Linked DNA regions of Homo sapiens: regions 2 and 3 are each reported to be linked to region 1. The links are microRNA targets in miRTarBase. Many come from high-throughput screens and were not tested one by one. Region 1 holds a microRNA gene; each other region holds the end of a gene's coding sequence.

Evidence for each region. Region 1 holds the annotated microRNA hsa-miR-218-5p (UUGUGCUUGAUCUAACCAUGU, at 1,249-1,269, shown strand). A microRNA usually pairs through its seed, bases 2 to 8, with sites in the 3' UTR of a target mRNA and lowers its output. Matches are read on the target gene's strand: a 7mer-m8 pairs with bases 2 to 8, a 7mer-A1 pairs with bases 2 to 7 and ends in A, and an 8mer does both.
Region 2: the mRNA of ZXDC is a reported target of hsa-miR-218-5p. The part of its 3' UTR that is shown has no 7-base or 8-base seed match.
Region 3: miRTarBase lists CHST5 as a target of hsa-miR-218-5p. The part of its 3' UTR that is shown has no 7-base or 8-base seed match.

What each region holds. Positions count from the first base shown.
Region 1 is chr4:20,527,051-20,530,117 of GRCh38, forward strand. MIR218-1 (microRNA 218-1) reads left to right here and starts at 1,225; the gene lies at 1,225-1,334. It overlaps SLIT2 (slit guidance ligand 2), which reads left to right. Exons shown (of 37, transcript NM_004787.4): 16 at 1,899-2,049.
Region 2 is chr3:126,435,880-126,438,946 of GRCh38, forward strand. It overlaps ZXDC (ZXD family zinc finger C), which reads right to left. Exons shown (of 10, transcript NM_025112.5): 10 at 1,722-2,582. The coding sequence ends at 2,496. It overlaps CFAP100 (cilia and flagella associated protein 100), which reads left to right. Exons shown (of 17, transcript NM_182628.3): 17 at 412-677. The coding sequence ends at 525. Among named protein-coding and RNA genes, the nearest start is that of ZXDC, 38 kb to the right of the region's middle.
Region 3 is chr16:75,526,513-75,529,579 of GRCh38, forward strand. CHST5 (carbohydrate sulfotransferase 5) reads right to left here. Exons shown (of 4, transcript NM_024533.5): 4 at 2,018-3,067. The coding sequence ends at 2,637. Among named protein-coding and RNA genes, the nearest start is that of CHST5, 8.1 kb to the right of the region's middle.

The sequences.
Region 1 (3,067 bases):
GCAAACTTCTTATGAGATTCTGATTCCATTTCCACTAAGACACATTATTTATAAGTTGAAAAGTTCATTAAAAAGTGTACATCACAACATAAGGATTAATCCAAATGTTGTAATGATTGTCCTTGAGGATCTCCATGATTAGTTTTTCATTCACTTTTACGTGTGTACCTCGCTACTACCATTTTATATGGCACTCTACATATTACAGTGATAAAAGAAAATCTGTCTTGCAGAGAGTTCATCTTTTTTTTTTTGGAGATGGAGTCTCGCTGTCTCCCAGGCTGGAGTGCAGTGGCATGATCTCGGCTCACTGCAAGTTCCGCCTCCCGAGTTCATGCCATTCTCCTGCCTCAGCCTCACCGAGTAGCTGGGACTACAGGCGCCCGCAACCATGCCCAGCTAATTTTTTGTATTTTTACTGGAGATGGGTTTTCACCCGTCAGGTGAAATGGTCTTGACTTCCTGACCTTGTGATCCGCCCGCCTTGGCCTCCCGAAGTGCTAGTATTACAGGCGTGAGCCACCACACCCGGCCTTGAGAGTTCATCTTTTAAAGGAATCAAGAACTTAATTTGCACTATGCATCTTTTATTACATTGGTTTTCTTGTGAGACCACCGTGCTTCAAAATATTATTTATAAAATTTTACAAAGCATGACAATTCCCATCACATCATGCTATTTTTTCAATAATTCCCATAATAAAGAAAGAAGGAAGAGAGCTTAGTTTTATAAATATGTATATTAATCTTAATTGGGATTACTCTTTCTTTCCTTCTTGGTGATCTTTACTTTTGCAGGAATTCACCATTTTGGCTGTAAGTAAAAGTGTCTGATCTGAAACATAATACCCTCCCTTTTCAATCCTGATGTACCTTCTTCTAGTCTTGGTCTTTGGCACCTTTTTTTCAAGAAGAAACCACAGATCTTTTGAGCTTCTCTGTTGTCCTTGTAGCTCACCTTCAACTTCTTCCTGGATGTTGTTCCCGAAAGCTGTTGTTTCCATTCTGCAGTTCTGAGGAATGGTGGAGGCACCTTTTCCATATAGCCCCTTCTTTGTGTTTCCAGGAAATCATCGGTAGTAATACTCTTACTGTGGTCATAAACATTCTGCGGGAAGAATGCATGTCATGTAAACAGTATTACGTTTCCAGAACGTCTGTAGCTTTTCTCCTCCTTCCCTCCATTTTCCTCTTGGTCTTACCTTTGGCCTAGTGGTTGGTGTAGTGATAATGTAGCGAGATTTTCTGTTGTGCTTGATCTAACCATGTGGTTGCGAGGTATGAGTAAAACATGGTTCCGTCAAGCACCATGGAACGTCACGCAGCTTTCTACAGCATGACAAGCTGCTGAGGCTTAAATCAGGATTTTCCTGTCTCTTTCTACAAAATCAAAATGAAAAAAGAGGGCTTTTTAGGCATCTCCGAGATTATGTGAGAGGGAGAGAATAGTAAAAAGTCCATAGAAAATTTAAAAGCCTGAGTATATCTATTTGCCTTGAAAGCCCTAATTTACAATGAGATATAGGATCATGTTTATTACTGGATATATTTTCAATTCTTGACTCCGAGAAAAAAAATAAACTTTTTAATAATTAATATCCATTGTGTGACTAGCTGTGAAGTAGGCTAGAATGACTCAGAATTGGATCAGCAGAAAGTACAGCTGTGAAAAGCTCAACTTTATTAATGTTTTCCTGTCATGTGAATCTGGTCACTCTTTTTTCCAGAAAATTCCAAGCCTTTCTTTTAACCTTTCTCCTGACATCCATTGACCAAAATACCCCAAGTTGTCTCCCTGCTACATAATCTATAGTTATCTTACTTTTTTCTTCCTACAAACTAATAAATTTTCTAACCTTTAGACTCAGTATCTTTTTTTTGGTTTGAATTCTCAATAGGTACAGAAGATTATCGATCAAAATTAAGTGGAGACTGCTTTGCGGATCTGGCTTGCCCTGAAAAGTGTCGCTGTGAAGGAACCACAGTAGATTGCTCTAATCAAAAGCTCAACAAAATCCCGGAGCACATTCCCCAGTACACTGCAGAGTTGTAAGTTCATCCCCCAACAAAATTCTGGTTGGGATGGAGGGAATGAAAGCATTAAAGCATAAGAATGTTTGTCTTGCCATTTTTATTATTAATAATTGCATTAATTTTAATTAATATGCATTACATTGGCATAACTCTATTTTGTACAAGAATATATTAGAGGCTACCTTCATTCATCTTTCTAGCCAACCATACGATTAAGTACAGAAACTAATTTATCTCTCAAAATTCAGTAAGCACTTCATACTAATAACAATGGTATTTATTTGATGCTTATTTATTGGGTATTATTTATTCCCAATTTGTTTTCTAAGTACTTAGTTTTTAACGTATTTAATTCTTATAGCAACTAAATAAAGTAGTTTGAGAGCCTCCATTTTCAATCTCTGTAAACTATCAATAGATTCAAGGAGTCTGTCTTACCTAATTTACTACTTCATTGACTTACGGGCAGAAGGATTCAGTGGTTATCAAGTATTAAAGTAGAAAGGATAGCTTTTTCTGAACAATGCAAGAAAAGCTGAAAAGGCAGAATATGATGGTATTTACACTTAACAGCCTTAACATAGGACCTTGCACATACTAAGTGCTAAGGTGTTTGTTGGAGCACTTACAGATTCTATGCCCATGCATGGTTTGCCTTTACTGACTTTATTTATAAGAAGAGGACCTTTAATGTTAGTGTTCTAACAATTCAGGGAAAAAACTAGCAAAACCTCATCATTCTCTAAACATCTTAGCCATGTTTATATATAGCACCATCTGGTATTTGTCATTTACTGCTTTGCAAAGTTCGTTGTCTGTTTGTTTGTATATAATCCTTCCATCTTTAACTAGATTATAGCTCCTTGATGACAGGGATTGTGTGTTATTGTTTATCTCTCACTGTGCCTATACTCATGCCTGTACTTAATTAATTTTTAGCAATTTGAATAACTAAAAATAAAGTAATGCCTTTCAAAGAGTTGACAGAAACCCACTATCTTGTAGTTATAGTGATTTTTTTTTTTTTACTCCT
Region 2 (3,067 bases), not on the chromosome of region 1:
AGCCATGCCCACCCACCCCAGCCAGGTACACTCTGCTCAGGAGCAGGGTCCCACCACCCTACCCACACTCCGGCCAGACCCCAAGCCCTGCTCACTGCCCGTCACTGGGGTCCCCCTACTGCTGTGTCCCAAGGCCCCCACCCTTCCTGCCTTCTGACCCTGGCAACAGGAAGCAGGTCCCTCTGCCCCCACATCTAATAGGTGGTGCTCCAGAGACCAGGCTTGATAAATGCCAGGCAGACTCACACCCCCAGTTATTTCAGAGTTAACTCCAGCCCTCAGCCTGCAGGGCTGACCAGAGTGGCCTGGAGGTGACTGGAGCTGCTGGGCCTCTCCCTGCACCAGGGGCAGGGGTATATGGGCATACGGCTCACTAGGCAGCAAGGCTCACTGGGCTTGTTTCCCCTGCAGAGAGGCAGGACACTGGTATGCCGCTCACGACCCCCAGCCCACAGGATCAAACAACAGTCTGAGCACACACTGATGGACAAGGAGGAGGAGGAGCTGCTATTTTTCTTTACTTAATCTTCGCAGACCATAGCTGTTCTGGCTGAAGGCTTAGCAAAGATGTTGGCAGAGGAAGCAGAGACTGGGCTGGGTCTCGAGTGGCCCAACTGAGTCCTCTCTGTCTCCTGTGTGCTCCCTTCCTCACCTGAATAAATTCATGTCTCTCTGGAGTCTTGAAGGCCTGCTTAAGGATGCAGCCACCATTGCCAAATCTCAGCACCCCGCCGGTTCATCATTTAACCCTAAGCAGATGCTTGAGGGCAAGAGCATGACACCTTGGTTCCCATCTAAAACAGCTGCTCTGCGAGACAAAAGCTAATTCCACGCTGAGTGTAGTGTGAGATCAGCCTCTGTGCAAAGACCAAAGAAATACAAGCAGGCAGCTAGGTATATGGCAGGGCCAGCACTACCAACTAAAGGAGAAACAATGGGCTGAATGCCATATATGTAGCTACTTGAATTAAGCCAAGGTGAAAAACCTTCGGTGCATGACTATAAGAAAACTTTCATTCATTTGCACTAGGAGTTAGGCCCATCACCGGCAGGGAACCTTGGTGCCCAGAACACTGGGTGCCAGTCCCAGTCACTTCACGGTGACGTTCCCAGGGAGGCACATGGGAGAAAAATAGAGGCCGAGAGGGCATTCCTGGGGGAAGACTCTCCTCCCCATGGAGATGGGGTGGGTGCGGCTCCACCCGCCATGGTGGCCAAAAGCCTCCCATGGAGGGAGGAGGACTCCGGGCCACCTTGGGGCTAAAGAGCCTGCCAGGTGGGCAAGTTCTCCCCTCGCCTTTAGTTGGTGACAGAGCGCCGGTCTGTGGAGAAGACCCATTTGTCGACGAGGTGTGGATTCTTCCACGTGGAACAGCACCTGGGGACAGCACCTCAGAGTGAGACAAGACAGAGGGAGGACTCACTCAAACTTGATGTCACCCCCAAATTCAAGAAACAAACACAGGGCAGAGTTTGAATGATTCAGTCTGAGAATCAAAACAGCCTCTGAATGAACACATACTTCAAAAGGCACAAGGCAAAAAAAAAAAAAAAAGTCATTTAGGAGTGACCCTGTGTCATTGCTAAGTTGACAGACTTACAAATAAACATGGGCAAGGTGATCACCTTGTCTCCTTTTACAAGACAGACCTCACTCGGTAAAAATATACACTGACGTATTATGTGCACATCAACCTCAATAATAAAACATACACGCGCCATCACAGTCCTACACATAATTTATGGTATTCAGAACATCACTTTATAAACTGTTGCCAAATTACCACTTAAACACTAATATCCAAATACAGAATTTAGAAAATTATTTTAAATTTTAACTCTACCATCCCCCCGAGCTCTCGGCTATGAATTTAGTCTGGGAAGAGGGCTCCGTAATAGGCCACTGAGGTCCTCTGTCCCACCACATCATCCTCCCCCGAAAACTAGCTGCCCGACTGCTCTACCAGACTTGGGCTAGAATTTGGCTTCACGGTGGCAATGGGACCACCTGGGCCCTACAGTGTGGCAAAATCAACTTGCCCACAAACCCCATCCCAGGTGCTGGGATGCTAACACACTGAAGCTGAAAGACCACACTTGGTTTTGCCACAGATCAAGCTGCATCTGACTAGACAGCCTGTTCTCTACCCTATTTCCTGCAGAAGTCTTTTTCTTTGTAATGCAACAAGTGCTACACAGCTCAGATCCAACGGGACACGGGGAAAGAGGCTGTAGTGCACCTAGCCCTGCTGAGGGAGACCCTTGCCTTGCCAAAGCACTTTGCTCACAAAGGCAGTTTCAAAGAGTATAGCCCGAACTCATTCCTGGTAAAACAAAAGGAAAACATTTTTGATAAATGTACCCAAAAGTCTCAAAAGGGCTACGCTGGTCTTCTGAACGGAAACCAAATGAGGTCTCCCCAGGCTCATGTCATGAGTCTCAGGGAAGGTGTGTCCTAGACCGTGGCCTTGGGCCTGCCCAGGCCGAGGCTGCCGTCACTGCAGATCCTGCAGGTTGATAGTGCTTCCTGGGAACTGGGTGGCCTCCGGTCCAGCAGGGCCTCCAGATGAGGGGAGCACCTCCTGCAAAACCAAGCATTGTCATGAAGAGGGAGGAGGGAGGGGAGGCAGAGGGATCCTGTGGCTCCACACAGCAGGACACTGACCAGGCCCGTGGTGAGATACCTGACTTCTCTTACTCAAAACTACAGGCTCCCCTTATTCTAAACACATGTTCTTTGATGAAAAATGAACTCAATACTGTACTGTAAATTTTTCAAGATTGTTCTGTCTGCACATTGACGTATACCCTCACATGTTCATATACCCATATGCCTTTTTACAGAAACAAAATCATCTTTACTTCTGCAACCCTTTCTCCGCACTTCTCACGCGGTGAGCACTCTCCCAGGTATTAGGTGTCCGTCCGCCTGTGCCCTCACAGCTGACCAGGATGTGGCCCAGGGCTATGGAGGCCCCATCTAGCCTGTCTCCTCCTGCTACAAGAAGTGTTCCTGCTGTTGCACCATTTGACTCCGGGCTACGGTGATTATGTCACTACCTTATTT
Region 3 (3,067 bases), not on the chromosome of region 1:
CCCAGAAACACTGGCAGGCCGAATTTTTTGGAAGTAACACAGAGAAACAGTCTGATGGGGTACAGCTCAGCATTTGCCTTATATGGACTTGGTCTGATCAGTTGGCAGCCTGTGACTGGTTAAAGCACAGCTGCTGTGACTTGCTGAGATTCAACTATTTGTTACAAGAATATAGTCTCAGTTGGGAGGCAGTTTACTTAAATATTAAGTTAGGTTGCAGTTCAACAGGTATGGCAGCAGCTTTGGGCCAAATTCTCTTTTTTTTTTTTTGGAGACGGAGTCTTGCTCTGTCACCAGGCTGGAGTGCAGTGCACGATCTCAGCTCACTGCAACCTCTGCCTCCTGGGTTCTAGTGATTCCTCTGCCTCAGCCTCCCGAGTAGCTGGGATTATAGGCATGTGCCACCATGCCCGGCTAATTTTTTGTATTTTAGTAGAGATGGGGTTTCACCATGTTGGCCAAGATGGTCTCGATCTCCTGACCTCATGATCCGCCCACCTTGGCCTCCCAAAGTGCTGGGAACTTTGGGCCAAATTTAATTGAATTTAAACATTTCTGCCTTTTGGTCAGCCTCTCAATTTTGAGAGATTGACCAAAACCTTGGGCCCTGACTCCATTTCCTGTCACCATCATAATGGACTTGTTTTGTTTCAGTATTGACTTCACAATTTCACCTTAGTTGAATGATTCTTTATGCTTTCTTCATGTTTTTGTTACTCTAACCCTAACAGACCAGTTGATTTATAAAGAATGGCTGCATAGGAGTATGTAAGACTTCCCAGGGGAGTCAACACATCAGAGAGACTATTATTATTATTATTTTATTATTATTATTATTTTTGAGAGGGAGTCTCGCTCTGTTACCCAGGCTGGAGTACAGTGGCGCAATCTTGGCTCACTGCAACCTCCACCTCCCAGGTTCAAGCGATTCTCCTGCCTCAACCTCTTGAGTGGCTGGGATTACAGGCATGCACAACCACACTGGCTAATTTTTGTATTTTAGTAGAGACAGGGTTTCACCATGTTGGCTAGACTGGTCTTGAACTCCTGACCTCAAGTGATCCACCCGCCTTGGCCTTCCAAAGTGCCGGGATTACAGGCTTGAGCCACTGTGCCTGGCCTATTATTGTTATTTAAGATGGAGTCTTGCTCTGTCACCCTGGCTGGAGTGCAGTGGTGCAATCTTGGCTCACTGCAACCTCCACCTCCTGGATTCAAGAGATTCTCCTGCCTCAACCTCCTGAGTAGCTGGGATTACAGGCATGCACAACCACACTGGCTATTTTTTGTATCTTTAACAGAGACAGGGTTTCACTATGTTGGCCAGGCTGGTCTCGAACTTCTGAGCTCAAGCGATCTGCCTGCCTTGGCCTCCTAAAGTGCTGGGATTACAGGCGTGAGTCACTGTGCCCGACCAGGGAGACTATTATGATGGCTATGAGTGGACAATGCCAAGAAACTGAAGTACACTCCTTATCAGGAGTTTCAACAAACAACTAGTCAAAATCAAATAACTCAAAGTCCATGCAATAAAGATAGTTCAATAGCATTTGAGTCCAATTGGTCAGTCTTTGTTCAGGGATGATGGTGATTAAAGGCCAAACCCTCCCCATTAAATGAGAGATCTACATTAGAGAGGTTTCAGAGACCTCCACCCAGCAACAGTGGGCAAGCAGCGTTTATAAACAGAAAAAGGAAGTGGCATTGGATATAGGCTGATTGGTTACAGCTCAACCTTTGTCTAATTTGGACACATCTGGTCAGTCTGCAGTCTGCCCCTGGCTGAAGGCTGGCTGCTATGATTGGAGAAGACTCCTTTCTTCTTACAAGAATATACTGCCTGGTCAAGTTGTAGTTTGTTTACATAATAAATAAGGTTACATCCCAGTCAAATCCTCCCTACAAAGTATCCCCTATTCTGACCTCTATCACCATAGACTAGTTTTTCTGCTTTAAATAAATGGAATCATGCAATTAAAGAAAAAAGAGAGAAAAAATGAGGTTACAGTTCACTAGATTGCAGGACTTTTGAACAAATTTATTACTTATTTTTTTGATAGAGTCTTGCTCTGCCACCCAAGCTAGGGTGCAGTGGCATGATCTCAGCTTACTGCAACCTCCACCTCTGGAGTCCAAGTGATTCTCCCACCTCAGCCTCCTAAGTAGCTGGGATTACAGGAGTGTGCCACCACGCCGGACTAATTTTTGCATTTTTAGTAGAGAGGGGGTTTCACTATGTTGGCCAGGCTGGTTTCGAACTCCTGACCTCAGGTGATCCACCCGCCTCAGCCTCTCAAAATGCTGGGATTACAGGCATGAGCCACCGCACCCGGCCTGGCACACATTTAATTTAATTTAGCAGTAACTTACTCCCTGCGCCCAGAAGAGGTAGGGGCAAGAGTTGCTTTCCATGAAGAGTGCACCTGATGAGAAGGCAGCTCCAGAAGACTCAAAGGAAAACCGAGAATCAGGAGAGAAAGAAACGTGCAGTCCTTGCCTACTTCAGGGGAGGACCCCAAACTCCCGGTTGATAGTAGGGACCTGCTTCCCCATGCGCCCCAGCTCCCTCTCCACCATGCAGTCGCCTCCTGGGCCTGGCGACCACAGTTCGGGGCCTGCTCTAAGGCCCAGAGTTCTCAGTCAGGCGATGCCCAGCTGAAGTGGTCTGGGCCTCGTGGCAGCACCAGATCCAGGGTGAGGTCACGCTGCTGGTCCGCAGAGTACACAGGCCGGTAGCCCAGCAGCTGCAGCGCGCCGGCGCACACCTCCTGCACGCGCAGGATCTTAGTGAAGGGCAACGCGTGGCGCCAGGCCTGGGAGACGTTGCGCGCATTCCTAGACGAAGTATGGAAGGCCTCGATTGGCTTGCCGATCCCCGACCCGTGGGTGATGTTGTGGATCCAGGCCTCGAGCTGTGGCGTGAGGGTCAGGCCGGTGAAGGCGTAGAGTGCGCGGATCTCTGCCAGCGGCTCCCGCGCCAGGTCCTCGAAGCGCACCAGGCGGTAGCGGCCGCGCAGGAAGGGTGGCGGCTTGAGTGTGGCGGCCTCGGCGATGCGCACGTGGCTGC